4 separate regions of the Homo sapiens genome follow, and regions 2, 3 and 4 are each reported to be linked to region 1. The links are microRNA targets in miRTarBase. Many come from high-throughput screens and were not tested one by one. Region 1 holds a microRNA gene; each other region holds the end of a gene's coding sequence. Distances are between the middles of the regions.
The links. The annotated mature microRNA hsa-miR-6887-5p reads UGGGGGGACAGAUGGAGAGGACA and lies in region 1 at 1,901-1,923, shown strand. An mRNA with a match to its seed (bases 2 to 7 or 8) in the 3' UTR can be bound and repressed. Matches are read on the target gene's strand: a 7mer-m8 pairs with bases 2 to 8, a 7mer-A1 pairs with bases 2 to 7 and ends in A, and an 8mer does both.

Region 1 (7,115 bases):
TGGAAACATGAGACCAAATAGTGGCTAAAAACCTCCTAGATTAGAACCCATTTCAGGTGGCAGAATGCTGGCGTGACTCGGAGGTGTGGGGCTGAGTGGGCGAGTCCACATTTCCTCGTTGGGATATGAGGGGATGAGGTGGCTGCTCAGTGACAGGACCCCTGTCCCGCAGGAGACCCTTTCCCAAGGCCCCTGAAACTCCCCAGGCCCTGCCCAAAGGCTTGGCTGAGGCCGGCATCACCATCTCCCCTCCTTCCCCTCTTCTCCCACTAGGCTTTCCTGTCCTGGACGCCAATGACCTAGAAGGTGAGTCAGACTGGACTCTCACCCGTCACACCCCCAAATTCTCCCCTGGGTGGGGAAGGCCTGCATCCTGGCTGTAATCCTGGATTCATGATCTTTTTTCTTTCCTTGCAGATAAAAACAGTCCTTTCTACTATGGTGAGAGCCCGTGCCCCCTTTCCCCTCCCCACAACCCCACATACTGCTTGGTGCCAAGGGTTCCCATACAGGGTTGGGGCCTGACGTGAGCATCACAGGACAAAGATACGAAGGGACTAGGATGGGGTTACTGAATATGCCACACAGTGGATTAAAGGAACTAGAGGCAGCAACCTGGCCTTTGGGAAGGTTCTATTCCAGCAAGATAGACACACGCAGGAGGTGAGGACAGTTTGCAAGAAGCCATTGGTTGGTTCAGATCAACTGCTGGGAGAAGTGTTGACTTGAGAAAACTTCCTGGAGGTGGTGAGCTATTGGATCAAAACCCTCATCTGGCCTCCAGGTTCCAATGACCTGCTCCCTACTCCCCGCTCTGCCCTCACCTCTCCACGCTCCTCATTCCTTCTGCTCCAAGCCTCTCAGACACAGCAGACATACTGCCAGCCTCAGACCTCTGCACCTGCTGGTTCCTCTGCCTGGAACACTTCCTTCCACAGAACCACATGGCTCCCTCCCTTCCCTCTGCTCAAATGCAGCCCCCTGAGAGGCCTTCCCTGACAACTCCCTCTAAAAGAGCTGCCATCTGACTTTTTTTTTGTTTTAGAGACAGCGTCTCACACTGTTGCCCAAGCTGGAGTGCTGTGGTGTAATCATAGCTCACTGCAGCCTCAAACTCCTGGTCTCAAGCGATCCTCCTGCCTCAGCCTCCTGAATAGCTGGGACTGCAGGCATACACCACCATGCCTGGCTAATTTTTGTATACTTTGTAGAGATGGGTTCTCACTATGTTGCTCAAGCTGGTCTAGAACTCCTGAACTCCTGAAGTCCCAAAGCACTGGGATTATATTAGGTTGGTTCAAAAGTAATTGTGGTTTTTGCAACTGCTTTTAATGGCAAAAATGCAATTTTTTTTTTTTGAGGCAGAATTTTGCTCTTTCACCCAGAGTGTGACTGGCTGGAGTGCAATGGTGCAATCTTGGCTCACTGCAACCTCTGCCTCCCGGGTTCAAATGATTCTCCAGCCTCAGCCTGCTGAGTAGCTGGGATTACAGGCGCCTACCACCATGCCTGGCTAATTTTTGTATTTTTAGTAAAGACGGGGTTTCACCATGTTGGCCAGGCTGGTCTGGAACTCCTGACCTCAGGTGATCCGCCCACCTTGGCCTCCCAAAGTGCTGGGATATCAGGCGTGAGCCACCATGTCTAGCCAAAAACGCAATCACTTTTGCTCCAACCTAATAGGTGTCAGCCACTATGCCCAGCCCGCCCTCTGACTTTCCATCTCCCACCCCACTTATTTTTCTTCAAACCACTTATCTCTGCCTGACCCTGCACGACAGATCGTGTTTGCTGGTGTGTGAACCAGAATGTGAGCACCTGGGATTTTGTCTGTTTTCTTATGGCGGTGTCCCCAGCACCCTGTGCATCCTAGGTGCTCCATATATATTTGTCAAGAGAATGGGGGGACAGATGGAGAGGACACAGGCTGGCACTGAGGTCCCCTCCACTTTCCTCCTAGACTGGCACAGCCTCCAGGTTGGCGGGCTCATCTGCGCTGGGGTTCTGTGCGCCATGGGCATCATCATCGTCATGAGTGAGTGGAGGAGCTCGGGGGAGCAGGCGGGCCGGGGCTGGGGCTCCCCTCCCCTGACCACTCAGCTCTCCCCAACAGGTGCAAAATGCAAATGCAAGTTTGGCCAGAAGTCCGGGTAAGATACTGTTCCGGCATGCCCGCCTCAGGCTGACTGGACGCTTTTCAGGGTGAAAGGGCTAACTCTCCCAGCAGGAGAGGCCTCGGGGCTCTGCCCTTTAGAGTTCCTGCCGCTAAGATTTCCAGGTTTATTGTTTCTAGCTGGTAATCCCCAGGGGGCCCCAAATCCTGAAATGCTTTGGCCCCTGGGATTGCACAACCCCCCAAATGGAAAGGCAGCCAGGAAGACATGTCTGGGCAGGCTAAGAACCCTCTATCCGGAGGGAGAGGGCAAATGGGGGCGGACACCAATCTCACCACTTTTGTCTCCTTAGTCACCATCCAGGGGAGACTCCACCTCTCATCACCCCAGGTAAGATGGGGCAGCATGGGGCTCAGGGGAACACGGAAGTGGTGTGTGTGTGTGTGTGTATGTGTGTGTTTGCACACTGGAAAGAAAAGAACTCAATCCACCCTCACAAACGGACCCCATCACTTCCCGCAGGCTCAGCCCAAAGCTGATGAGGACAGACCAGCTGAAATTGGGTGGAGGACCGTTCTCTGTCCCCAGGTCCTGTCTCTGCACAGAAACTTGAACTCCAGGATGGAATTCTTCCTCCTCTGCTGGGACTCCTTTGCATGGCAGGGCCTCATCTCACCTCTCGCAAGAGGGTCTCTTTGTTCAATTTTTTTTAATCTAAAATGATTGTGCCTCTGCCCAAGCAGCCTGGAGACTTCCTATGTGTGCATTGGGGTGGGGCTTGGGGCACCATGAGAAGGTTGGCGTGCCCTGGAGGCTGACACAGAGGCTGGCACTGAGCCTGCTTGTTGGGAAAAGCCCACAGGCCTGTTCCCTTGTGGCTTGGGACATGGCACAGGCCCGCCCTCTGCCTCCTCAGCCATGGGAACCTCATATGCAATTTGGGATTTACTAGTAGCCAAAAGGAATGAAAGAGAGCTCTAACCAGATGGAACACTGGAACATTCCAGTGGACCCTGGACCATTCCAGGAAAACTGGGACATAGGATCGTCCCGCTATGATGGAAGTGTTCAGACAGTTTATAATAGTAAGCCCCTGTGACCCTCTCACTTACCCCGAGACCTCACTTTATTACAAGATCTTTCCAAATACCCAAATGTCCCTGCAAGCCCGTTAAATAATTCCCTATGCTACCCTTAATAACATACAATGACCACATAGTGTGAGAACTTCCAACAAGCCTCAAAGTCCCTTGAGACTCCCCAATACCTAATAAGGCATGCGAAATGTTCTCATGAACTACCCCACAACACGCCTAAAACTCAAAACACCCAAAAATATCTCCTCCAATGTCCTGAAACATGAACCCAAAAAGAGACCCACAATAAACTCGTGACTTGTCCCCTCATCATGCCGTTTTATCCCTCAAACATCCCCTGAGTCCCTCCATAACCACGAACCCACACTCAGAGACCATGAACTGCGGAAACGCCTCCCTGGGACCTGGGCCGCTCCGAGCACTGCTCCAGGGACACCATCCCCGCCCTGTGCCGTTCACAGGACATCCTCTCCCAAGGATCCACAACACTGGGCGGGGAGGGTGCACAGCGCATTTATTGAGCTCGGACTCGTCTTGTCCTTGCCTCCGTCGCCCATCTAGAAGGGCACCAGGCTCCCCGCGACACCTCCCGCTGTCCCTCCCTGTGCCCCGGCGCACGCGCAAGAGGCGCAAAAGGCACAGCTTGCTGGGCGGCCGCACGCATGCGCACAAGCAGCAGAGGGGAACCCGCCCAGTGCTGAGTTGTCTTCGAGGTTGGCGCTCCTCCAGGAAAGCGATTGGCTGCGTGGAGTTTAGAATGGGAAAGGAATGCCATCAACCCCTCGGTGCTTTCAGAGGGACCAGCGGGGTAGGAGCGGGTTGAGAGGGGGGCTCCGGGACCTCATGGAGCTCTGCACGTGACCTCCACCTCGACTCCATGCAGTGCACCAGCCTGCACCCCCCAGGTTGCCTTTGATGGGGAATCTGCCCCAGCCGAGATGTCCAGATGTTGCTTTAGACCTGAAGGGCAGCTCGGGAGGTCCAGTAGGCTGGGACCCTCTATGTCCCCCCATGGGTGCAGATCCTTTAAGAAGTGGGCTTAAGGCCTAGACGTGTGGCTGATGAACGTGGCCCACGGTCAGCAGCTCACAGGCGGGCCATCACCCCAAGTAGGGCCAGGAGCCAGCCAAGGGGCCGTCCAGGGGCCCCAGCCATGCCCAGAGTCCCGTTGGTGGTCTCAGGCACTGAGGTCGATCTCGTGATGCTGGTAGATCTGTGTGGGGCCCTTAAAGCAAGCAGCAAAGAGGAAGCGTCTGCCGGCCATAGTGATGTGGGCAAAGGCACGGGGGGCCACCAGGGCCGGAGGCCCCAGCTCCTGCAGTGGCTCCAGGAGCCCCTTGTCAGGCTCAAGGCGGAGGACCTGGCTGAAGGCGAAGTCGCTGCCTAGGATGGCCAGCTGGTCCCTGGCGATGAGCAGTGGCTGGAAGACGTGGGCACCGCGCGAGGGAAGTTGCTGCAGCAGACGAAACATGGAGCCGTCCCAGCGCATGACCTGTGGGGGTGTGGCCAGTGAGGGCCTGGGGTCCCGGGGGTCTCTGGGGGCCGTGGAACAGCTTGGAAGCAGAAGCCTGTCGGTCCCAAAACTCCCATAGCTTTCTTATCTTCATAAAAGTCACCACCCACCTGTTCGGCCACACACATGCAGTTGTTCTGAGCCCTTCCCTTGCCCTCACGCCCCACACAGAAGCACTCAGCCATGGACTCTGTCAGTTTCACCTTCTACAGTTGTACATTTCTCCCACCACCTCTGGCTGAACTCCATCCCCTCCTGACTGGACCATCCTGGCAGCCTCTTCCCTGGCCTCTAGGCTCCTCTCCCTGCTCCCCCAGTCTGTTCCCCACCCAGAGACCTTGTGAACACCTGAGTCAGATCAGGGCCCTTCCAGACTCAGAACCCTCCCCTGCCTGCACCTCACTCCAGAAACAGTGGGCAGTGCTTAACCCTAGCATCAGCCTTGGGGGCTCAGTGTCAGGGTGGGGACAGGTGTGGCTGTGGTGAAGTCTGGAATGCATCCGAGTCACAGAGCCAGCATTTGGGGGTAGAATCAGGATGTTGGGGCCAGCATCAGTGTCGGGGACTGGGGAGTGGTTCGGAGTCAGCCAGCCTTGAGGGGGTCAGAGTCTTGGCATCAGTGTGGGGTGGGGTCCTGGTTCAAAGGTCGGCATGTGAGGGTAGGTCAGAGTTTAGAGGCTTAGTGTGCAAGATTGGGTCAGTGCTGAAAAGCCAGCCCCCCGCCCCCAGGCCCAGCCTCACCATGGAGTCCCCAATGTAGCGTGTGAGGCACAGGAACACGTCCCCACCAGCCTGGAAGTGGCGTGTGGCATAGACATCCTCGGCCTCGGGGATGTCTGTGCGTCTCTCGAAGCGGCCACCGGTCCAGTGGAAGAGCACGGGCCGCTGGGAAGCCGAGGCCAGCAGCAGGTGGGGCCGGCCGTCCAGCTCCAGGGCCTCAGCGTCCGTGTCCCGGTGCCAGGCGTGCAGGCTCTGGTGCGGGTAAAAGCCGGGCCCGTCGCGGCACAGCAGCGTGGTGCTGCCCGCCTTGGAGGCATCGGCCACCACGAAGCAGGGTTGCCCTTCCAGCCACAGGAGCTCGGCGTCATTGGGCCGCAGCAGCCGCCGCGGGGCCAGGGTCTGCGTTGGGGCCAGGCGCAGGCCGGGACTGGGCCGGGCCCACAGCTGTGAGCCCCCCCACAGGCGGGCAGCCAGCACGAAGAGGCTCGGGCCCAGCACCAGTGGCTTGCAGGACACCACGGAGGCCGCTGTGGGGAGGTGGGGAGGCAGGTCAGGCCAGCCAGGCAGGCTGCTGGACAGGCAGAAGGACGGGGAGGGGGCTCACCGGGCAGCTCTTCCTCGGGCCGGAAGCGCTGCAGGCTGTAGTCCCAGGAGAGAATCAGGCAGCGGCCGGCGAAGGGCTGTGCCAGCACAATGTGAGGCTCCCCTTGGTAGGAGAAGGGCTCTACGCTCAGTGCCGACTCCCCCACCGTCTGGAACCAGGACAGCTCTGTGGGTGGAGAAGAGAGTCAGGCAGGCCCCAGGACCCCCAGGGTCCTCATTGCTGAGCCTCAGTTTGCCTACATCTCTGAAATGGAGGCCATTCATGGTACCCCCCTCATAGGGACATATAACTGGAATCTTGATCTGTAGATGTTTGTTTGGTTTGGGTCGAGGGGTATTTTGTTTTGTTTTGAGACAGGGTCCCACTGTGTCTCCCAGGCTGAAGTGCAGTGGCACAATCATAGCTCAATGCAGCCTCCACCTTCTAGGCTCAAGCAATCCTCCTTCCTCAGCCTCTTAAGCTGAGACTACAGGTGTGTGCTACCATGGCTGGCTATTTTTTTATTTTTTGCAGAGATGGAGTCTTGCTATGTTGCCCAGGTTGGTCTGGAATTCCTAGGCTCAAGAGATCCTCCTGCCTTGACCTCCCAAAGTGCTGGGATTACAGACATGAGCCACCTCCACCTCCTGGGTTCAAACAATTCTACTTCCTCAGCCTCCCGAGTAGCTGGAATTACAGGCGCCCGCTACCACGCCCAGCTAATTTTTGTATTTTTAGTAGAGATGGGGTTTCACCATGTTGGCCAGGCTTGTCTCGAACTCCTGACCTCATAATCTGCCCGCCTCGGCCTCCCAAAGTGCTGGGATTACAAGCGTGAGGCACCGTGCCCGGCCCATAAATCTTATTTTCTAAGCTGTGTGGCATCACCAAATAATCCCTTAGAAACAGCATCTGGATTAATTCATTTAACTTCACAACATCCCTGTGAGGTACATTCTGTGATGATTTCCCCTTCGCAGATGAGAAAACAAAGGCTAACTGGCACAGGCAGTCTGTTATCCAACAAAATCCATCCTTCCCACCTTCCAGGAGAGAGGATTGGAGCTGGTCACCAGGCCACCCAGCTA
Region 2 (7,115 bases), not on the chromosome of region 1:
GCATGTGCCTGTAATCCCAGCTATTTGGGAGACTGAGGCAAGAGGATCCCTTGAGCCCTGGAGTTTGAGACCAGCCTGGGCAATATAGCAAGATCCATCTCAAAAAAAATTTGAAAACTGGATCTCAAAATTTGCACGGAAAGGCAAAGGAATTAGAATAACCAAAACACATTTGAAAAAGAATAAAACTGGAGAATGTATACTACCTGATTTCAAAACTTGCTATGAAACTTCTAGTAATCACATCTATAAGATACGGAAAAAGGACAAGACATATAGATCAAGGGAACAGAATGAACAATACAGGAAAAAACTTACATTTATGGCCAATTTATTTTATTTGAGGGTCTCACTTTGTCACCCAGGCTGGAGTGCAGTGGTACCATAATTGCTGAGTAGCCTCGAATTCCTGGGCTCAAGCCATCCTCATGCCTCAGCCTCCTGAGCAGGTAGGACGATAGGCACGTGCCACCATACCCAGCTACTTTTTTTTTTTTTTTCCAGACAGGGTCTCACTCTGTCACCCAGGCTGGAGTACAGTGGTGTGCTCACGGCTCCGGGGTTCAGGTGATCCTCCCACCTCAGCGTCCCAGGTAGTTGGGACTATGGGCATGCACCACCATGCCCGGCTAATTTTTTGTATTTTTGGTAGAGACGGGGTCTTGCCATGTTGTCTAGGCTGGTCTAAAACTCCTGGGCTCAAGCGATCCTCCTGCCTTGGCCTCCCAAAGCGCTGGCATTACAGTTGTGAGCCACCGCGCCCGGCCCTATTCTTTTTTTTCTTTTTTTTGAGACGGAGTATCGCTCTGTCGCCCAGGCTGGAGTGCAGTGGCGCCATCTCAGCTCACTGCAAGCTCCGCCTCCCGGGTTTACACCATTCTCCTGCCTCAGCTTCCCGAGTAGCCGGGACTACAGGCACCCACCACCACACCCGGCTAACTTTTTGTATCTTTAGTAGAGATGGGGTTTCACTGTGTGAGCCAGGATGGTCTTGATCTGACCTTGTGATCCACCTGCCTTGGCCTCCCAAAGTGCTGGGATTACAATCATGAGCCACCGTGCCTGGCCCTTCTTTTTCTTTTTTTTAGATAGGGGTCTCACTCTGTTGCCCAGGCTGGAGTGCAGTGGCTATTCATAGGTGCAATCATAGTGCACTGCAATCTCCAACTCCTGGTCAGCCGCTACTTCTTAAAATGTTTCTCTGTCTGGTTCATGTTTCAAAGTCTGGTTCATGACTCTGCTACACTTCAGTTTCAAAAGCTGGTAGCAAAGGAAAAGAACATGCCAAGAGCTGACGTTCTGCTGTGATGAGACCACCCAAGCTCCCCGTATCTATACCAAGGGATCTGTTGCCCAGGCTGGAGTGCAGTGGTGCGGTTTTGGCTCACTGCAACCTCTGCCTCCCGGGTTCAAGCGATTCTCCTGCTTCAGCCTCTCAAGTAGCTGGGATTATAGATATGCACTACCACACCCGGCTAATTTTTGTATTTTTAGTAGAGATGGCGTTTCACCATGTTGGCCAGACTGGTTTTGAACTCCTGACCTCAAGTGATCTGCCCGCCTTGGCCTTCCAAAGTGCTGGGATTAGAGGCATGAGCCACCACACCCGGCCCGGATGACTTACTTAGCTCTTCAAGGCTTACGGAAGTTGGTACCTTGTGGAACTAGGCTGGGGAGGTCTGGATGCCAGATGTTCTTCTGAGGTTGCTGTTCTTATAATTGCTGTATTCAAATATATCACCCAGTTGAGATGAAATGCCTAGAGCACAGCTGCGGAGTGGGACCAGCTGGGCTGAGGAGGGAATGAAGTACAAACATCCAGCGATGTTCAGGGCCCTGAAGCAGCTGGGAAGCGCAGGCGTTCAAATCACCAGAGGCATGGCTATATCAGCTCACATATCATGCACACAGATGCATGTCCTAGGCGTGGAAACAAAGCTCCCCAGACCATGGTTAACTCACCGCATGCACCTGGAGTTCCATCTGCACCAAGGCGCCAGTGGTTACTTTTAGAAATAAACAAGTCACAACGAGGACATTATGTTAAGTGGAATAAACCAGTCACGAAACGACAAGTACTATATGATTCCACTCGTAAGGAGGTAGTTAAGAGGAGTCACAATCAAAGGGACAGAAAGGAGAATGGTGGTTGCCACGGGCTGCAGGGAAGAGGAATGCGGGGAAGAGGAATGCGGGGAAGAGGAATGCGGGGAAGAGGAATGCGGGGTCAGAGTTTCCATTCTGCAAGACGAAAAGAGTTCTGGAGATGGATGATGGTGATGGATACACAACGTTATGAATGTATTTAATACCACTGAATTGTGCACTTAAAAATGATTAAGATAGCAATTTGTGTATTTTACCACAATAAAAAACAAAACAAAAACAGCCAGGCATGCAGTGGCTCATGCCTGTGATCCCAGCACTTTGGGAAGCCGAGGCGGGAGGATCAACTGAGGTCAGTAGTTTGAGACCAGCCTGGCCAACATGGCGAAACCCTATGTCTACTAAAAATCCCCAAAGTGCTGGGATTACAGATGTGAGCCACCACACCTGTCCCCGCTGGGATTTTTAAAGTATATCTGGAAAGATCCAAAAGAAGCCAGCAGCGATGGTTGCCTCCTGGAAGGCATCAGGGTGGCCAAGGGACAGAAGAGTAAGGGAAGCCTTACACAGCAGCTCCTTTGCATCTTTCAACTGAACCTTCACCAAATTTTTAAAGAAAAATAAAGGTGCATGATCAACAATCAAACTTCTAGGACCGTCCCCTAGCAGGAGAGCAGCAGCAGCAGCAGCACACAGACCTGCCCGAGGGCGTTTCCCGGAGCTCCACAGCCACCAGCAAACTGTGGGACACAACTGCCACCTCCTTTAGGAAGGAGGTGAGCATATTACAGAACTGCAATCATACAGAATATCACACTGTGGCTAAAGAGTTAAGCAGTGTCTACTTCGATGAACATGGAAAGGGGTCCATAGCATCTCATTTAATGAAAAAAGTGAGTTGCGCAGTGTGTACAATATTCCATTTTTGGTATATTTAAAAATCGTATGTGTAAACGATTTGCCCACCCGCACAGAAGCGTCTGGAAATGCCACCGCCAACTGTGAATAGTAGGTCCCTCTGGGGACAAGGGTTGGGGGAACGATTTCCACTGGGGCATGTCTTATTGAATTTATCATGAGACATCTGGACCTTTTCCAGTAATTTTGTCCAAGTACAGCCTTGGCCTGTTGCCTGAAAATAAGGTTTTGGAGCTGGAGGCAGTGAGTCCAGCTGACGAACCCAGGAGGGAGCTCGCTCTGAACAGGTCTGCCCCGCTGAGCATCGGAGGCACAGTCGGGGCCCTGCTTGGTCCATGACAAAGTCACTTCCTTGTCAAATGCATCAAGACCCGCCAGCATGGTGATCTGTCAAAAACAAAAAAAAGTGGGTGGCAAGCCCTTACGTGACCCTGAGGTCAAGATCACAGAGTCCCTCGACCGTCGTGGAACTTGTGAAACCTGAGTATTTCCCAAATGAATGACTGCCTGGAACACTCTCCCTGCAAGCCAGTTTCGGAAGCCCACCCAGTCTGTAGCTGTTATTGTTCTGCACCCCACAGCAACTGCTTGGAGACCCCCGGGTCCAGCAGGCGGAGGCAGAGGGTGCCGAAAGGGTACGGTGAGGCAGCTGACCAAGGGCTGAAGCCGGTGACCCCTGGGCCAGGACTCAGCTGCCCAGCCCAGAAGTCGGGGGCTGCCTCGGTCCATGACACACATGCTTCTCAAAACCAGCGAGGTCAGGGAATTTCCACCCCTATCCAGGCCTGGAGGGTCTGTGAGGCCCGGAGTCCTCTTGACTGGAGGACTGTGGCTTTGTAAACATCCACAACAACACCACCCACAGCTGCTGATTGTTTATTGCACAAGAAACTGGCAATATCGAGGCAAGGGGCGGGCATTACAAAACAATCTGGTGACCAGCCCATGGCTAGCAAAGGGCATTCCGTACAGACACTTCAGTTATATACACGTACGCACACACACGCACGAACACACATGAACACCCGTGAGCCTGATGCTTCCAAACCTCACCAGCAGCTTGCACCCTGACCCACCCTGGAGCGGCTTCCATGGTAACGTGCCACAGGGAAGTACAGCAAATGACTGAAAGGGACAGAAGAGGCTGCGCTGTGGCAAGCTAAGCCACTCAAATCAGCACACACGACAGAGGCAGACGCAGGCTGCACCTCCCGGGCCGGGGGAAGGTCGAGAATCTGGGAGCATGGAGACTGTGCTTGGAAGGCACCCGGGACCAGTCCAAGGGGCTGCCTGGGGGTCCTAGAATCCTGGGGGCCCAGGCCGGGAGTCTGCCATGACTACTGCCCCAGCACCCCGGTGGGGCATGGTCACCTTGAAGATTTCAATATGACCTATGAAGATTCCAGTTACGGCAGAGTCCCCGTGTTGGAGGCTGGCGGGAACTGCAGAAATCAGATGGGGCTATGCAGCAGCTCAGGGCCTTTCTGCTGGTTTTCATGTCCTGTGTGCAGATAAAGCCTCACACCTATGCAGAATGAACACTTTCCGCTGGCGGGCTGCACTCCATTCTGAACAGGGGACCAACAGGCCCTCCTGGAGCTCCAGGGGCTGGCAGGGGAGCTCCACAGCCGGACCCCTGTGTCCCGCCACTGGGGACTGCCTGGGGGACCCTATCTAGCAAAGGGATTTCTTCTCTATTGAAGGCGGCAAGGCTAGGAGTGGCGCTCGGGACCTCAACCCCTCTCATTCTGCCAGGCTTGGGGACGAGGTCCCTGCCAGGCTGTGCCGCCGGGTCAGGCCTGCCTGAGCTCACGGAACCGCCAGGTGGGTTCCTGAGAGGCGTGGCTGTTTGGGAAACTCTTGGACCCAAAGGTCTGGGTCCCTCAAGGTCTCAGAACACCTGGGGTGCCAGCTCCTGGACAGAAAGTGACAGCAGCGTAACAAAAAACCTGCAACCCTACAACACAACCACTTCAAGTTTATACATGGACAAAGTCTGAGGGAGTTTGCTGTTTTTGTCCCGTGGATACCCAGGCAGCTTAGACAAACCTTCATTGGCTGAGAATGAATTAACTGGCCGGCATGTGTCCTGCGACTCAGCCTCCACCGCTGGCGCCTGCTAGGGAGGCAGGCAGAGATGGCCTCGCCCCAGGGCCCGCTCCCTCAGACCTTCACTTCATCTCCATCATCAGAGAGGCTCAATTACAGGCAGAACCTCCTTTGCTGGCAAAGACCCTTGGCGCTCTCAGTCCCGAACAGCCACCCCCAGTGGCCAGTCTCCTCGCCGAACTAGTCCAGGAGGTCTCCGGCCTCTGCGGCAGCCCCTGGGGATGCAACACCTTCCCTTGCACACTCACATACACCCAGGGTGGGGTCTAGAGGACAGGGGAGAGTTTTGCAGAGAGGGTCAGCCCTCTGGAACTTTGCAAAGGTGGGGCCAAAGGCAACTAGGGGGCTTTATTCCAGACTGCCATCCGCGGGTCGGGGGAACTGCAGGGCCTCCTGGGATCAGGCTTTTCTGCCAGCAGCGAGATGACAGTGTGGTCCCACACAGGGCCACATCCACGGGGGCCTCCCAAGGGCTGCGGGGCCAGTGGCCTCTCAGGCAGGGAGGACTCAGGACTACATGTGCGCTGGGGGGCGTGGGAGGGGCGGCCTCGGTTACTCCTGTCCAAAGCCCTCGGTCTCCTCAATGGCATACAGCAGCTTCTCTCTCAGCTGTTCGTAGCTCTTGTAGGGTGGAAGATCCAGACGGTTGAAGCTATTGAGAGTGGGGAAGCACGACAGTCAGCCCTAGGAGGCCAGGGCTCTGATAGCCCCACCATGCCTGCCTGCAGCAGGGCCACAGGGCTTGCACCACACTGGCTAGGGCTCAGGGGCTGCCAGTCAGGCCTTCACATTGCAGGTGCCTGGACCATGGGGTGTTAAGGGAGGGGCCAGGACAGCTGGAAATTGGTTGCGGGGGACACTTGGGGCAGTAGCTCTTGGACTACTGGAACAGAAGTGCTTCATATGTAAAACCCGGTAGATCAGATGCCCATCACAGCCCCATCTCTCCAACCCAACACCCCAGGGCCACGCAAAAGCTGCCAGACTCGAGGCTATGAAGCTGCTACACCCACTGGGCTGTCCCAGGAGCTCATCGGGTCTGAGGCCCCCCGACCTCCCACTAAAACCAGCAGGCTCACCAGGTGTGGCTTCTGGGCAGCCAGGTTTCCTTGCCAACTTTGTCAATGCAAAACTTCTGTGGTCCGTTGCTACCTGTGATCCAAGGTAAAACACGCCGACGTCAGCAGAGACGTCCCTTCCCAAAGCAGGATCCTCCGGCTCCACCCACAGATGGGCTCGGCCCCAGGATGCAGAGGCCACAGCTCTTCTCCATCCCACTGACGTGCTTCCAGGAAGAGACTAGGTTTCCCCCTCCCTCTGAGCTGTCCGCACTGCCAGCCAGGACGCCAGAGGGCGAGAGAAAACATACCGATGAGTTCGGCAAATCCCCCGACGGGCAGGCGGCAGGTACCGGTGACAAACTGCAGCAGCCGGATCCTCTTCTCGTTGTCCATCTCCTTCACCACCTGGAAGTCCGCAAGTCAAGGCACAGTCAGGCAACCCACGGGGCCCAGTACTTTGCCCGAACGTGGAGCTCTCTAGCTCAGCGGGGCCCCTCTTTGGGGCTGAGAACACAAAGCCAGGTTGGCCAGGGGATGACAGCCTCCAACCTGAGAAACCCCAGAAGTGCTTTTGCTAAGAGGCTGTGTGTGCATGAGATTCCCACCAGTCCATGGGACATCTCTGGGTCTCAGGGACACCTCAGGCTGGGTATTCTCTTCCCATCCACGTTCTGCTTTTAGAGATGACTAAATATGGGAGTGACTGCTTAATGGGTATAAGGTTTTTGGGGAGATGAAATGTTCCAGAATTAGATAGTGGTGCCAGGTGCACAACACTGTGAATGTACTGGAAGCCACTGCTCTGTCGCCCAGGCTGGAGTGCAGTGGCACGGTCCAGCTCACTGCAGAGCAGTGGCACGGTCCAGCTCACTGCAGTCTCCACCTCCCAGGTTCAAGTGATTCTCATGCATCAGCTTCCCG
Region 3 (7,115 bases), 29 Mb from region 1:
AGTGGCTCACTCCTGTAATCCCAGCACTTTGGGAGGCCAAGGTGGGAGGATCGCTTGAGCCCAGAAGTTCAACACCAGCCTGGGCAACATATCGAGACCTCATCTTTACAAAAATTAAAAAACAAACAAACAAAATTAGCTGAGCCTGATGGCATGTGCTTGTGGCCCCAGCTACTCTGGAAGCCATCGTGGGAGGATTGCTTGAGCCTGGGAGGGTGAGGCTGCAGTGAGCCGTGATAGCGCCACCCCATGCCAGCCTGGGTGACAGAATGAGACCCCGCCTCAAAAAACAAAACAAATGGGCAGGGTGCGGTGGCTCACGCCTGTAATCCCAGCACTTTGGGAGGCCAAAGCGGGCAGATCACCTGAGGTCAGGAGTTCAGAACCAGCCTGGCCAACATGGTGAAAGCCCCTCTCTAAAAAAATACAAAAATTAGTCGGGCATGATGGCGGGTGCCTGTAATCCCAGATATTTGGGAGGCTGAAGTGGCAGAATCACTTGAATCCAGAAGGCAGAGGTTGTAGTGAGCCAAGATTGTGCCATTACACTCCAGCCTGGGTGACAGAGCGAGACTCCGTCTAAAACAAAAACAAATTAAAATTAAAACGTCAGAACAACAGATAAAAATATTCTGAAACATAAGCGGATTCATTTATATGAAGAAAAAAGCATGCAAGAATATCTGGGAAAATTCTGAAGCAGAATTATAAAGGGAAACTACCACTACCAGACTTTTTTTTTTTTTCAGACGGAGTTTCACTCTTGTTGCCCAGGCTGGAGTGCAATGGCTTGATCTCGGCTCAACGCAACCTCCACCTCCCGGGTTCAAGCGATTCTCCTACCTCAGCCTCCCGAGTAGCTGGGATTACAGGTATGCGCCACCACACCCGGCTAATTTTGTATTTTTAGTAGAGACAGGGTTTCTCCATATTGGTCAGGCTGGTCTCGAACTCCCGACCTCAGGTGATCTGCCCGCCTCGGCCTCCCAAAGTGCTGGGAGTACAGGCGTGAGCCACTGCGTCCGGGCACACTACCAGATATTAATTAGGTCACACAGTGGCAGAAATGTAAAGGTGAGTACTGTGCATATGAGGGAAGCCAGAGAGAGACACAAACGTATGCAGGAATTGAAAAATGCAACCAAAGACGGCATCTCAAATAAGTGAAGACAGGTTATTCAATAAATGGGGTGGATCGCCTTGCATAGCTATTGGGGAAATAGAGCTGGGGCCCTACCTCATGGCTGAATAAATTCCAGATGGAACAAATTGAAATGTGAGAAAGAAAGAGGGAAGGGAGGCAGGAAAAGGGGGAAGAAGAATTGAATTCCTAGGAGAAATCATGGGAGAACTTAAAATAAAAACATCCTAAATAATAAACAATAACAGCCCAAAAACCATTTCAAGGAAAACTTGATCACTTGATAATGGATCACTTGAGGATAGGAGTTCCAGACCAGCCTGGGTGAGAGTGATAGTCCATCTCAAAAAAAAAAAAAGAAAGAAAAAGAGCCAAGCGCAGTGGCTTACGCCTGTAATCCCAACACTTTGGGAGGCCGAGGTGGGTGGATCATGAGGTCAGGAGTTCAAGACCAGCCTGGCCAAGATGGCGAAACCCCGTCTCTACCCAAAATACAAAAATTACCAGGGTGTGGTGGTGAGCTCGTGTAATCCCAGCTACTCAGGAGGCTGAGGCAGGAGAATGGATTGAACCCGGGAGGCGGAGGTTGTGGTCAGCTGAGCTCGCACCACTACACTCCAGCCTGGGTGACAGAGCGAGACTCCATCTCAAAAAAGTTAAAATTAAAAATTAGAAAAAATCCTGGGCAACTCGGCTTGCTGAGGCAGTTTCTTTATCTGTAGACAGGGATGAAGCAGTGCCCACCTCACGGAGTGCTTGTGAAGAGTCCATGAGACAACTCTTAGGGAAAGCCTGACTACATTTTTTTTTTTTTTGAGTTGGAGTTTCGCTCTTGTTGCCCAGGCTGGAGTGCAATGGTGTGATCTTGGCTCACCGCAACCTCTGCCTCCTGGGTTCAAGCAATTCTCCTGCCTCAGCCTCCCGAGTAGCTGGGATTATAGGTGCCTGCCAGCACGCCCAGCTAATTTTTCCTATTTTTAGTAGAGACAGCCTTCACCATGTTGGTTAGGCTGGTCTCAAACTCCTGACTTCAGGTGATCCACCCGCCTTGGCCTCCCAAAGTGCTGGGATTAGAGGCGTGAGCCACCTCGCCCAGATTTTTTTTCTTTTTTTTTAGTACAGGGTCTCTCCTGTCGCCCAGGCTGGAGTGCAGTGCAGTGGTGCAATCTCGGCTCACTGCAACCTCTGCCTCCTGGGTTCAAGAGATTCTTGTGACTCAGCCTCCCAAGTAGCTGGGTCTACAGGTGTGCACTGTACTTTAGGCTAATTTTTGTGTTTTTACTAGAGACAGGGTTTCGCCATGTTGCCCAGGCTGGTCTTGAACTCCTGGCCTCAAATGATCCACCCGCCTCGGCCTCCTAAAGTGCTGGGATTATAGGTGTGAGCCACCATGCCTGGCCAGAAAGCCCTACCACGTTTTTACACATCCATAGTCCTTCCACTGCACCTTGGAGGGTCTGGGAACCCTGAAGGAACCACTGTAGACCTTCTTTCACTCCATATTCTTACTTTAGGAGCTCAGACCCAAAACCATACCCCGAAGGCCTAAAAGAACCTTTCTCTGGTAAGGCACGGGGCAGGGAAAGCCACACTCTGATGCTGGGAATGGATCTTTTGGTTCCAGAGTAGAAGGGAGAAGACATGCTCCAGAGTCCCCAGCGCTAAGCTGAGCCCAGCTGAGTCCCCAGCTGCTGCCTGCTGACAAAAGTGATCTCAATCAGTGGCTGCCACGGTGATCCTGTAATGTGGGCTGCTCAGGAATGGAACTCCTGCTCCTCTGGGTGGAGCTGGAGCTGGAGCACAGAGGGGACAGATCTGCTCAAATGGGGCCAGTGACAGCTTTGTCTCCTGGAGGTTCACTGAGCTCTGCCACACTGAGGCCAGAGAAAAACCCACCAGAGGGAAACTGGGAGATGGCACGCTGGCTCCTGGGAAAAAATGTCTTTGCCTACATTTTTATTTCCGTCCATCCAACCATCCATCCATCCATCCATCCATCCATCCATCCATCCATCCATCCACGCATCCATCCTTCCTTCCTTCCATCCACCCATTAACCCATCCATTGATCCACCCATCCATTCATTCTTCCATCCACTCACCCATCTATCCATCCTTCCTACCATCCATCCTTTCCATCCATCCACCCATCTGCCCTTCCTTCCCTCCTTCCGTCCTTCCCTCCCTCCTTTCCTCCTTTCCTTCCTTCCTTCCATCCACCCATCGATCCATCCATCCTTCCATCCTTTCTTCCACCCACCCACCCATCTATTCATCCATGGTCCACCCAACCAATCATCCACTCATCCATCAAACCACCCATCCACTCACCCACCCATCTGTTCATCCATCATCCATGCATCCACCTTATGAAACCAAGTTTTCTTCTCAACCCAAACCTTGCTGTCTGCTTCCAAGTAGAGAGCACAGCATCAGAAGCAGGATGTGAGCCGAATTCTCTGCCCTCTTGAATTGCTGGTAGCATCGTCTCCAGCCTTGCTCACACTCCCCACCCCCACCAGGCTTGGTCCCAACCCTCCTTCTCTGTTTTGGTCACTGATCTGGGGGCACTGGGACACGTAGTCGGGGCAGGGGGCCCCAGGCTACCTCGCAAGCCTGCCCACTGACTGGACAGGAGGAACCAGGCAGATGCATGCGTCTGCTTTCCCATCTGACTTTATTTCACTTTTTTTTTCTATAAAACTCCTCCATAATTTCACAATTTAACAAAAGTTTAAAATCCAGGAAAGAAACAATCCTGTAACTCGTTACAAACACGATTCTCCTTATTCCTTTTATCCAGGAGTTGGTCTCGGGCCGATGAGTGTCCTAGTTCCTAGTGAGACACGTTCTTTGTAAAAACCCTTATGGGCAAGAAAGGTATTCGATACCATTTGCTTTCCGGCGTCGGTTTACATTTTTGTTCAGGAGAGAGCAAAACACAGAGATTTGCACTGGGGGCAGGCGGCTTAACAGGAAACACGTGGCAATCACAAAGTGCCAGGCCCCTTTCCTATGGAAGTGTCCCCAGAGCCCTCGTGGGCCCAGCCGCCGGGCAGCTGGGGTGGGGTGGGAGAGCAGCTGGGGATGCTGCCTTGGGAGCCCATGCTGCCCAGCACGTCCATCAGGTGGTCACGGAGCCAGCCCTGGGCCCAGAGCAGCTCTGGAGGACAACGTGAGGCCTTCCGGCCAGAGGAGGTAACTGAGAACTGGGTTGGTGCTTCCGGAGGCCTTGGAAACGGCAGGAAGGGCCAGACGCCACCACCGAGAGCAGGCGGGGGAGCCCGACCCTCCTCTGGCTGAGTGGAAGGCTGCTCGAGTCGCTGTGTGGATTTTGGGGGACTCCTGCGAAGGAGAAAGGCCAGCACCCTGGGCTGAGGTTCCTGTCCGTGACCCCGGCGGCCTCTTGTGCGTAGAGCTCCCAGCAGCACGGGCCCCCGGTCAGCCCCCCTCAGGCCAGTTCCTTCAGTCCAATGTCTTAGTTTCCAGAGAAGAAAGGAAGCGCCCCATGGTGGAGTATTGTTGGCCGCCCTGGGAAGGGGAGAGGGGGCACAGGGGCCTGCCCTCTTCCTGATACCTGAAGGCAGTGGGGCCGGGAGAGAAACAGAGCAGGTGGCGAGGAGTCCCGGAGGCTTCCTCCGAAGGTTCTCGGGCCTTTCCCCGAGAGTTCTGGGGAGTTTCCCCAGGACAGCTGGCATTGGGGGCAGCCTTGGAGGCATGGGTCCCCACCAAGGAGTGTTCAGGATCTGCTGACAGAATCAGAGCAGGGACAAGATGAGGGACCTCAGGGAGGGACAGATGGAGCCCCCCAAGTCTGAACTCATAGGCTGGGGAGGAGGAGACATCTAGGTGGGTTCGAGGGGGTGCGAGCCCACCTCCAGGCCCTCAGCCCTCTTTTCCTCATAACTTGGTCAGGGCACAAGGACTTGAAAGGACTTGAAAGTCAGGGGGTTGAGAGGACTGGAGGCGCCTCGAGTCAATGTCTGGGAAACAGAGGCTAACCAGGCAGGCCTCCAGCCCCTGGGACCCCCAGCCACGATGGGCTGGCTCCGCGGGAGCGTCCTGGCCCTGGAAGAGTGGGCCGGGAAGGAGGACCGGCTTGGCCCCTGGAGAATCTCAGGCATACCAGGAGTGGGGCTGCGGGCGCGGCACCAGCATGAATTGCGGCGGTGGAGGCCGGGGCGGGCCAGGCCGCGACCAGAGAGAAAGGCAGCCTGGGAGGGCCAGCCCGGCCAACCCACCGGGCCTGCTGATGGCCGAGCCCACGCTCGAGGGGCTGACCAGAGTTCAATGCGCCTCAGAAAACTCCATAAACTATCCCGTCTTATTTGGCAAAAGCTCATATTTTTTTCAAAGTTTGAAGACTTGAATGAAAGAGAGGAAGAGGAGCCTATGGGAGGAGGCCGAGCCCCAGGGCGGCTGATGCGAGTCTGTCCGCGGAGACTGTTGGCGCTAGTCTGAGTAGAGCCCGAGAGCAGACTGGTGGCTCCCGGGCGCCCTGAGGACTCGCTGCCCTTTGTAGTGTTGGCTGACCCCCCCGGGAGCCCCGGTAGGAGGCGGCGGCATCCTTGGAACGGCAAAGGGAGAATTCCTCCATGCGCCTGGAGAGGGCCAGCTGCCGTGCCTGGCTCGGCCTCCAGCCCCACACCACCGCAGAGACATCTTAACCTACAAGCCCCACCGTACGCACCCCCCACCCACCCCACGTGCACTGCTGCCACAGAAACGCACATGGACACTGCTCTTGACCAGACAGTGCACACACATATATAATAGAGAGAACTATACAGCACAGACCCCAGCGCAGCGCGAGCCGGGGAGGAGCCGGCGCTAGGTCTACACGGAGGACGACGCAGACACACAGGCAGGGCCTTCTGAGGTCCAGGGTGGGCGGAGGGTGTGTTCTGAACCATTCGGGAGGCTGGAGATGCCCCCCAGCCGTCGATCCGCTGCTCAGAAAGGCTGGGGCAGCGACGCCGCACAGCCCGCCGAGCAGTGGGGGCTGGTCCCAAGGCTGGGCGAGGGGCCCCCGGCCCTGTCTCTGCCCAGAGCTGCCTTCAACACCAGCCGCTCTCTGAGGGGAGCCCAGAGAGCCCGGGGGGCGGCTCCCGTGTGGCCCAGCCCGGCCCCAGGGCTCCTGGCGATGGAGCGGGGAGAGTGGGCAGGGAGCCGCCGAGGAAAGTGCAGCGGGCTGTGCGGGCGAGGACAGGGCTGTCGCTAAGGCAGTGCTGCGGGCAGGCGAGACGGGAGAGGAGGGCAGGCGAGGCCTGGCTGCAGCCTCCCAGGACCCCGGCGGTGGGGGCCCGGCACGCGGCCCAGGGTCATGTGGCCACGGCCTCCAGGCAGCTCTGCAGTTTGCGCACGGTGGTCTCGTCCAGGGAGAAGAGGTCGAAGTCGAAGGTGGTGTTGGTGACATTGAAGTGGCCAGTCTCCTCGATCAGATTCACAATCTGTAAGGTGGTGGCAGGTGGCTTCAGGGGCAGGGGGCCAAGGGTGGGGTTGCCCTGTTCCCTAACAGAGGTAGGGGCTCCTGGGGCAGCACCAGGGGCCCCCGCAGCCCACACTCCTCACAGGCACCCCGACCTCTGCCGGGCAGGACCCTCAGGGGGGCGATACCTGCTGCAGCACGTTGCGCTCCCGCAGCGCCATCAGCCTCCGGTGTAGCTCCACCAGCTCATCCGTGTAGGCCTGGGGAGGGGGGGCAGGTCTCAGCAGCGTGTGGGGGCCCTGGACCCTTCCTGCTCCCATGCCCAGCCCCACCCATGACCCAGTCCATCCCAGCACAGGACAGAGGTAGCCACATCCAAACCAAGGAAGGCCCAAGGCTGCAGGGGCAGCCCCTCAGCTCCAAGGCCACACCGGGAGGGGAGGAAGGACTGTCCCTGCTCCTGCCCAGGAAGAGTCCAACTGTGGGGTGTTGGGGGGCTCTGGGGTCCTCCACTGGCTGCAACTCCCACCACCCACCCCTCCGTAG
Region 4 (7,115 bases), not on the chromosome of region 1:
CTGGTGTCTCCTCCAGTAGGCTCCTGGGGGCTGGGGATGGCTTTGATGGTCCAGACAGGTCTCAGATGCTCTGAAAAGGATGGATACTAATGGCGCGGATGCCTTCCTGTTTATTAGGGGTGTGTGCAGGGCAGGGTCAAGAAGCCAGTTTACACCAAAGACAAGGGGAAGGGGCTCCTGGGGCTTACCCCTTCCATCTGGACCTCATGCTGTCATGTTGCTCAGGGATCCCAGGGTTAGAGCAGGTTTGCTAGGGAGAAGTGAGGGCAAGGGTTTTTTGTTTTGGGAAAAAAATCAGTTCTTCAGTTTTTCTGTCATTTTTTGGAAAAATGTACAAGCCATGACACCTTTGCAAATAGCCAGCTCCTTTGGAATGGAGCTCCCTGGCTTAGTCACTAGGGAGACTTCTCACACCTGGGGGCCCCCATGATGCTGTGACTGGGAGCACATGGGAAACTGATGCTGTCTCCCTGGGGTCAGGGCCAGTGGAGGTGCTGCTTCTCATAGCATCCTCCCACCCTGCCCATAGAGGCTAGAGCCTTTGAGCCACCGTTTGAGCCACCACCCAGAGGTCCTGATGGCAGTGAGTGTGCATTCGTGTGGACAGGTACCTGTGCATGTGTGCATGTGGGAGGAGGGTGGGGCAGAAAAGGAATAGAACCATATCACACATTCCCCCTTGGGACTGGCAGTCGCCATTTTTGGTGGAGGAGAGGGCATCTGGATGCCTCTCAATGAGTAATTGGGAGATATTTTTGGTGGGTTAGGAGAGCCACTTTGGGTCTGGAGAGACTATGAAGGCAGTCTTGTCTAAGGATTTGACCTGTGACGGGGAGCTTTCAAACTCATCTCTAACCCCAACAGGAACGTGCCTCATGAATAAACTCGAACAGATGTGTTTAGAACAATTGAGGCGCAATAAGTCTTATGTAATCCCAAAACAGAAGCAAGATTTTCATAAGCCTTTCCCAGCCTTCCAGGTCTGAGGGTTTATAATCTTCATCGACATGCTAACAGTGCCCTCTGGTGTTTGGCAGCAAAACACAGGCTTATGAATACAGGGTATGGAGCATCCATCAGTTCTGTAGACATTAAACTGCCTCTGAACGTGGAGTCCTGGGCCAGGCATCATGAGGGGAAGAAAGGTTAATAAGACAGACAGGTCCCTGGAGCTTCTGATCTAGCAGGAAAGACAGACCCATAACTGTAGGACAGACAGAGAATGACATGGGCTATAACAGGGGGTACAAACAGAGACAGTAAGAGTGCCTAGAGATGAAGAAGTAGCCCTTAGGCTGTGTTTAACAGGCTGAAGATGGATGCCAGGACTCTCCAGGCTGAGCACCCCAGGCCCGGGCCCAGTGTTCTGAGGCAGCCAGAGAAGAAGGCCTGTGGGTGGGATGTCCTGGGAGATGCAGCTATGGAAGGCCCTGTTTGTAGAAGGTCTTGAATGCCAATCTCAGCAGGGCCATCCTGAGCAAAGAGTTAGCACATGTTTTATGGTAACTGGCAGAAGGGAAAAGGGTGGATGTGTCAGAGAAGCAAGTGGACACAGGAAACCATGCAGACTTTTGCTGCCCATCCTATGAGGCATCAAGGTCTGAGCTGAGCACTGACAATGGGAAGGAGAGGAAGGCAAACATTTGAAAAACAGTCGAACTGACAACAAAGAGGTTGGCTGAACAGAGAGGGAAGCTGAAGGAAAATCTGAGGTTTCTGGCCTTAGTTTACGGTTCCCGTAAAGGTAATGATTAGAGGAAGGGGAGCAGGTGCTTTGGGAAAGTTTTATTTAACATCTATTTCTACTATCCCTAAGTGAACTGATTTGTCCCAGCTCCTAAGTTATGAAACAGTAATTAATTCTAATAAGACACATCAGTTATGAAAATAGGTATTAAAAATTTTAAACATGTGTTTGTCATGAAACAGGCATTTAAAAGAAGATGAGCTTGGGGCATCTTGCAGTGTCAGAAAGTAAAAAAGTGCTCAAAAACAAAACAAAACAAAACCAGACACACAGTGATGGGGATGTGTGAAAAGGACACATGAACACCCAGTGGCCAAAGCAATTTGAGCAACAAAATAAAGTATTATTACATTGTAACCCAAAGTCCAGGAGTCCATACTAAATGATTGAATAGGCTGTGCATGGTGGCTCACGCCTGTAATCCCAGCATTTTGGGGGGCCGAGGTGGGTGGATCACCTGAAGTCAGGAGTTCGAGACCAGCCTGACCAACCTGGTGAACCCCTTCTCTACTAAAAATACAAAATGCCAGGCATGGTGGCGCATGCCTGTAATCCCAGCTACTTGGGAGGCTGAGGCAGGAGAATCACTTGAAACCGGGAGGCAGAGGTTGCAGTGAGCTAAGATCGCACCACTGCACTCCAGCCTGGGCAACAAGAGCGAAACTCCGTCTCAAAAAAAAAAAAAAAAAAAGATTGGCTAAATAAATAAGCAGGAGAGAATAAAATAGGTAAATCTCCCATGCAGAACCATTCCAAATAATTTATGTAGATACTCCATCCTCAAGGAGGAGTTGCATAAAAACCTCTACTTAACTGTGGGCTCCACATAGTGACTTCCCTTTGGAAGGTACAGTATGAAAAGAGGAAAAGCCTGGGTGCGGTGGCTCACACCTGTAACCCCAGCACTTTGGTAGGCTGAGGTGGGTGGATCTCGAGGTCAGGAGTTCGAGACCAGCCTGGCCAACATGGTGAAACCCCATCTCTACTAAAAAAAAATTAGCTGGTGTGGTGGTGCACACCTGTAATCCCAGCTACTTAGGAGGCTGAGGCAGGAGAATTGCTTGAACCCGGGAGGCGGAGGTTGCAGTGAGCCAAGATTGTACCACTGCATTCCCACCTGGGCAACAGAGTACAACTCCATCTAAAAAAAAAAAAAAAAGAAAAAGAAAGAAAAGAAAAGGGGGAAAAAGGGTAACTTTACAGTGGAGAAATCTGACAAAACCTACCTCAGCCAAATGATCAAAGTCAACCTCAACAGTGACAGGTCATGCTGATACTATGTAACTTTGATATGATGTGATGAAAATGGCACTTCTCCTGTGTCTTCCTCCAAAACCCATAACCCCAGTCTAATCATGAGAAAAACATCAGAACAATCCCAGTTAAGAGACACTCTGCAAAATACTTGACCAGTACTCCTCAGAAGTGTCAAGGTCTTCAGAATCAAGGGAAGTCTGCCATTCCATCACAGCCAAGAGGAACCGAAGGAGATACGACACAGTGCAATGTGGTATCCTGGAACAGAAAAGACAAGAAAATCTCAATAAAATTTGGGCTTTAGTTAATAATGATGTATCAATATTCGTTCTTTAATTGTGACAAATTTGCTATACTAATGTGTTAATAGTAGGAGAAATTAGGTTTGGGATATATGGGGACTCTATACTATCTTTACAATGTTTCTGTAAGTCTAAAACTATTCTAAATTAAAAGCTTATTTAAGAAAGAAGCTGGCTGGGTGTGGTGGCTCACACCTGTAATTTCAGCACTTTAGGAGGCCAAGGTGGGCAGATCCCTTGAGCCCAGGAGTTCAAGACCAGCCTTGGCAACATGGTGAAACCTCATCTCTTAAAAAAAAATAAAAAAAATTAGCCAGGCATGGTGGTGCATGCCTATAGTCTTAGCTACTTGGAAGGCTCAGGTGGGAGGATTACCTGAGCCCAGGGAGGTCGGGGCAGTGAGCCATGATCATGCCACTGAACAGAGTGAGACCCTGACTCAAAAAAAAAAAAAAAAAGGGGCTGGGTGCAGTGGCTCACGCTTGTAATCCCAGCACTTTGGGCGGCCGAGGCAGTCAGGAGTTCGAGACCAGCCTGACCAGCTTGGTGAAACCCCGTCTCTACTGAAAATACAAAATTAGCCTGGCATGGTGGTGCGTGCCTATAATCCCAGCTACTCAGGAGGCTGAGGAAGGAGAGAATCACTTGAACCCGGGAGGTGGAGGTTGCAGTGAGCCGAGATCGCACCACTGCACTCCCGCCTGGGCAACAGAGTGAGACTCCCTCTCAAAAAAAAAAAAAAAAAAAAAAAAGAAAGAAAGAAAGAAAGAAAAAGAAAAGCAAAAAGAGGCCAGGCGTGGTGGCTCACACCTGGATTCTCAGCACTTTGGGAGACTGAGGTGGGTGGATCACGAGGTCAAAGAGACTCTGTCTCAAAAAAAAAAAAAAAAAAAAAAAAAAAAAGAAGCCAGTTATTTAGTGGAGAATGACTGATTAGGCCCAGATGAAGAATAGAACATTTCAAAGTTGGACTTTCCAGCCTATAAAAATAGGGTTGGCTATTAACATCAGTGGAGACTAAAAATACAAAGAGTAAGAAATAGTTAATAGCTGTGTGTGTGTGTGTGTGTGTGTGTGTGTGTGTATGCATGCACTGTCGTGTTAGCTAAGCAAGTATCCACAAAGTCAACTGTACACAGAGGTAGGGCAGCTGACATCTAGGTGACAAAAACTGCCCCCTCCCAAGCTCCCTTTCTACCCACTGAAGCTAAAGTCGAGAGGGCACTGTTAGGGGCCATTACTCTCAGTTAAGATAGTGTTTCTCACACTTGGGTATACAAATAGACTCCTTAAGAAAAGATATTAATACTACCACAGATCCCTAAAAATATGCCTGGTGACCCAAGTTACAGAAACTCTAGGTTTAGAACTAAAGTCTTAATCTAAGGAGCATCTTTCAGTTGTGAATTATCACTGCAAGAGTTGAATCTTTAGAATGGGTTAAATATTGTGTTTTATATGAAAGCTCACAATTAAAAAATGTTCCTGTTACTTGCAGAGCTCTGACAAAATTTCCCTGGACGCCCGGATAAGCAAGGATAGCATTGGGTGGTCAAACCCAAGAGAAAGGAAATGAAGAAAAAGGGCATAATTGTGGGAAGCCCTAGGAGGACAGCTGTGCAGGAGCTCTAGGAGCAGCCAGCACTGGAGGCGGCGGCTCTGGGAGGCAGGTCTTCAGGAAAAGAAGTCCAGCTGATAGTGATCTGATGCCTGGTCTATGAGGAAAATTGCATTTTGAGACATTTTGTTGATCATTTGCAACATTTCAGAAGAATTAGCAATAGGTATATACCAAAAAAGAAGCAATTATTAATTTCAGAAAAAAACATTGTACAAAAGAGGAAAGGTAATCATAGTGTACTGCCTGGCTCAGTGGTAAACAGTATTTCTAGCATCATAATAATATAAACATTGAAAGTTAACAAAAATTGTGATACAATTATCTGAGGTGAACGAAAACGGGAAGATTATGTTTTTTTAATTTAATTTTGAGACAGCGTTTTGCTCTGTTACCCAGGCTGGAGAGCAGTGGCGCGATCTCAGCTAACTGCAACCTCCACCTCCCGGACTGAAACGATTCTCCTGCCTCAGCCTCCCAAGTATCTGGGATTATAGGCACCCACCACCGTGCCCGGTTAATTTTTGTATTTTTAGTAGAGATGGGGTTTCACCATGTTGGCAAGGCTGGTCTTGAACTCCTGACCTTAAGTCATCTGCCCGCCTCGGCCTCCCAAAGTGCTGGGATTACAGGTATGAGCCACTGCGCCCGGCCACCTTGCCTAATTTGAATGTCCTGGCATGCAAATTCATATTTAAACTCTGGACGGAAATGCTCGAACCACCGGGCAGTGAGGGTTTGACTGGGCTCACTCATGCTGTGGAGGTGTGCTGAAGCCCACACCAGTCAGGAGAGAATGGAGTCCCTTATGCCCCATGTATAAGCATGGTAGTCCTTGACCTGTTTGAGTCCAGGACCCCAAGCCTTGCAACAAGGGCCTATTCTCCACCCAGTGTGGACTGCTATGCTGGCTCACCTCCCTAATGAGAACCTGTGTACTTATTATTTGCACAATGATTGATGAAGATTCTCTACCTCTGTAATGCCAATTTCCGTATAAACAGGTTTCTTTCCCTCCAAAGAAACATGTCTATATTCTAAGCTAAAAGTTCTACATTAATTCCCTAAATTTTATGGATTAGGAGGGTGAGTTTTCTTACTCTCGTACTCTACCCCGTAGAATCTTTACTACCCAGACAAATTTCAGAATGAATTTATAAGGAGACACCAATGGAGAGAAAACCTTTATTTGCATAACAACAAACATGGGTGAAGTAAGAAGAGGCATATGAAAACAAGATTAAGGTGGAAGAATCCTTGGTGGGAGGAGAGGAGGAGAAAGCAGAGGCACTCTTGTAGCCATAAACGCATTTCCTTGTTGGCATCTGGACTGCTCCCTCCTCATGCTCCACTGAGACTTCTCTTTGCTTGGCTCATAGTCTCACTGCTGGCCCTGCTTCCTTGTCTCACAGTCCCAGAGTGCTCCCTCCCCAAACCCGATGGAGGAGCGCAGCTTCATACCCTATTGTGTGGGACAGCAGCTACTCAGAAGGTGTTACTTGGATTTTTTGCAGCTGTTAGTGATTCTGACACCCTTGGACCTCCAGGAGTAGCTCCTCCTGCCACGAGAGGACTCTGGCTTTTCTAATAAGGAAGGTTCTGGCCAATCAGTCCAAGAAAGGCCCGGATTCTCTTCCAAGGTGTTGTCTCTGCAGAAATGTTCCTCAGGGTGGAAGGTGCTGCTGCAGCAAGGGATGTCCCCTGAGTTTTCAGGTATGTAGTCTGGTGAGAGAAAGGCAGGAGAGGAAAACTCAAGCCTCTGCTTCTCCCAGGCACAGGTCCTTAAGCTCCTCTCTAGCTACTTTCCTTCCAAAGTCAAAGGCACCAACTATTAATCCCCCTCTGGTGGGATGTCTTCCTCCTTTCCCAGGCACCACAAGTCCCTACAGCCCCCTCCTTGCTCTGAGGCCGGCCCATCCCTCCAGCCTCACCTGTGGCTGCAGCAGGTGAACACTCCTCACACTCCCATTTCTTACTGTTAGATCTAAGAGAGGAGCAGTCCCTGTGGGTTCCGTGGGATCCGCATGTAGCACACAGAATGAGGCACCACCTCCTAGAGGAAGAGCCCAGGAAGGGTTGTGGAGACATACAGAACACCAACTGCCATGCTTGGATGTTTGCTATGGGCCAGGCATTTTTTACAGCACATTTTACCCAAGATGAATGTATGGCTCAGAGAGGATGAGTGCTG

Region 2: the mRNA of WWP2 is a reported target of hsa-miR-6887-5p. Seed matches in the 3' UTR shown: 7mer-A1 at 5,659-5,665.
Region 3: the mRNA of MLLT1 is a reported target of hsa-miR-6887-5p. The part of its 3' UTR that is shown has no 7-base or 8-base seed match.
Region 4: miRTarBase lists PHF7 as a target of hsa-miR-6887-5p. The part of its 3' UTR that is shown has no 7-base or 8-base seed match.

The regions. Positions count from the first base shown.
Region 1 is chr19:35,120,805-35,127,919 of GRCh38, forward strand. MIR6887 (microRNA 6887) reads left to right here and starts at 1,896; the gene lies at 1,896-1,960. FXYD3 (FXYD domain containing ion transport regulator 3) reads left to right here. Exons shown (of 9, transcript NM_005971.4): 4 at 274-306; 5 at 418-441; 6 at 1,961-2,035; 7 at 2,114-2,150; 8 at 2,467-2,504; 9 at 2,637-3,520. The coding sequence ends at 2,653. It overlaps LGI4 (leucine rich repeat LGI family member 4), which reads right to left. Exons shown (of 9, transcript NM_139284.3): 7 at 6,049-6,213; 8 at 5,466-5,971; 9 at 3,709-4,703. The coding sequence ends at 4,389. RefSeq lists enhancers at 1,453-2,342, 2,343-3,230, 3,501-3,590.
Region 2 is chr16:69,938,511-69,945,625 of GRCh38, reverse strand. It overlaps WWP2 (WW domain containing E3 ubiquitin protein ligase 2), which reads right to left. Exons shown (of 24, transcript NM_001270454.2): 22 at 6,503-6,599; 23 at 6,213-6,285; 24 at 3,887-5,785. The coding sequence ends at 5,686. It also overlaps a transcript of CLEC18A not described here. Among named protein-coding and RNA genes, the nearest start is that of MIR140, 9.0 kb to the right of the region's middle.
Region 3 is chr19:6,206,580-6,213,694 of GRCh38, forward strand. MLLT1 (MLLT1 super elongation complex subunit) reads right to left here. Exons shown (of 12, transcript NM_005934.4): 11 at 6,758-6,829; 12 at 3,802-6,591. The coding sequence ends at 6,463. Among named protein-coding and RNA genes, the nearest start is that of MLLT1, 70 kb to the right of the region's middle.
Region 4 is chr3:52,422,622-52,429,736 of GRCh38, reverse strand. It overlaps PHF7 (PHD finger protein 7), which reads right to left. Exons shown (of 11, transcript NM_016483.7): 10 at 6,856-6,977; 11 at 6,096-6,646. The coding sequence ends at 6,420. Among named protein-coding and RNA genes, the nearest start is that of PHF7, 16 kb to the right of the region's middle. RefSeq lists enhancers at 944-1,043, 1-1,771.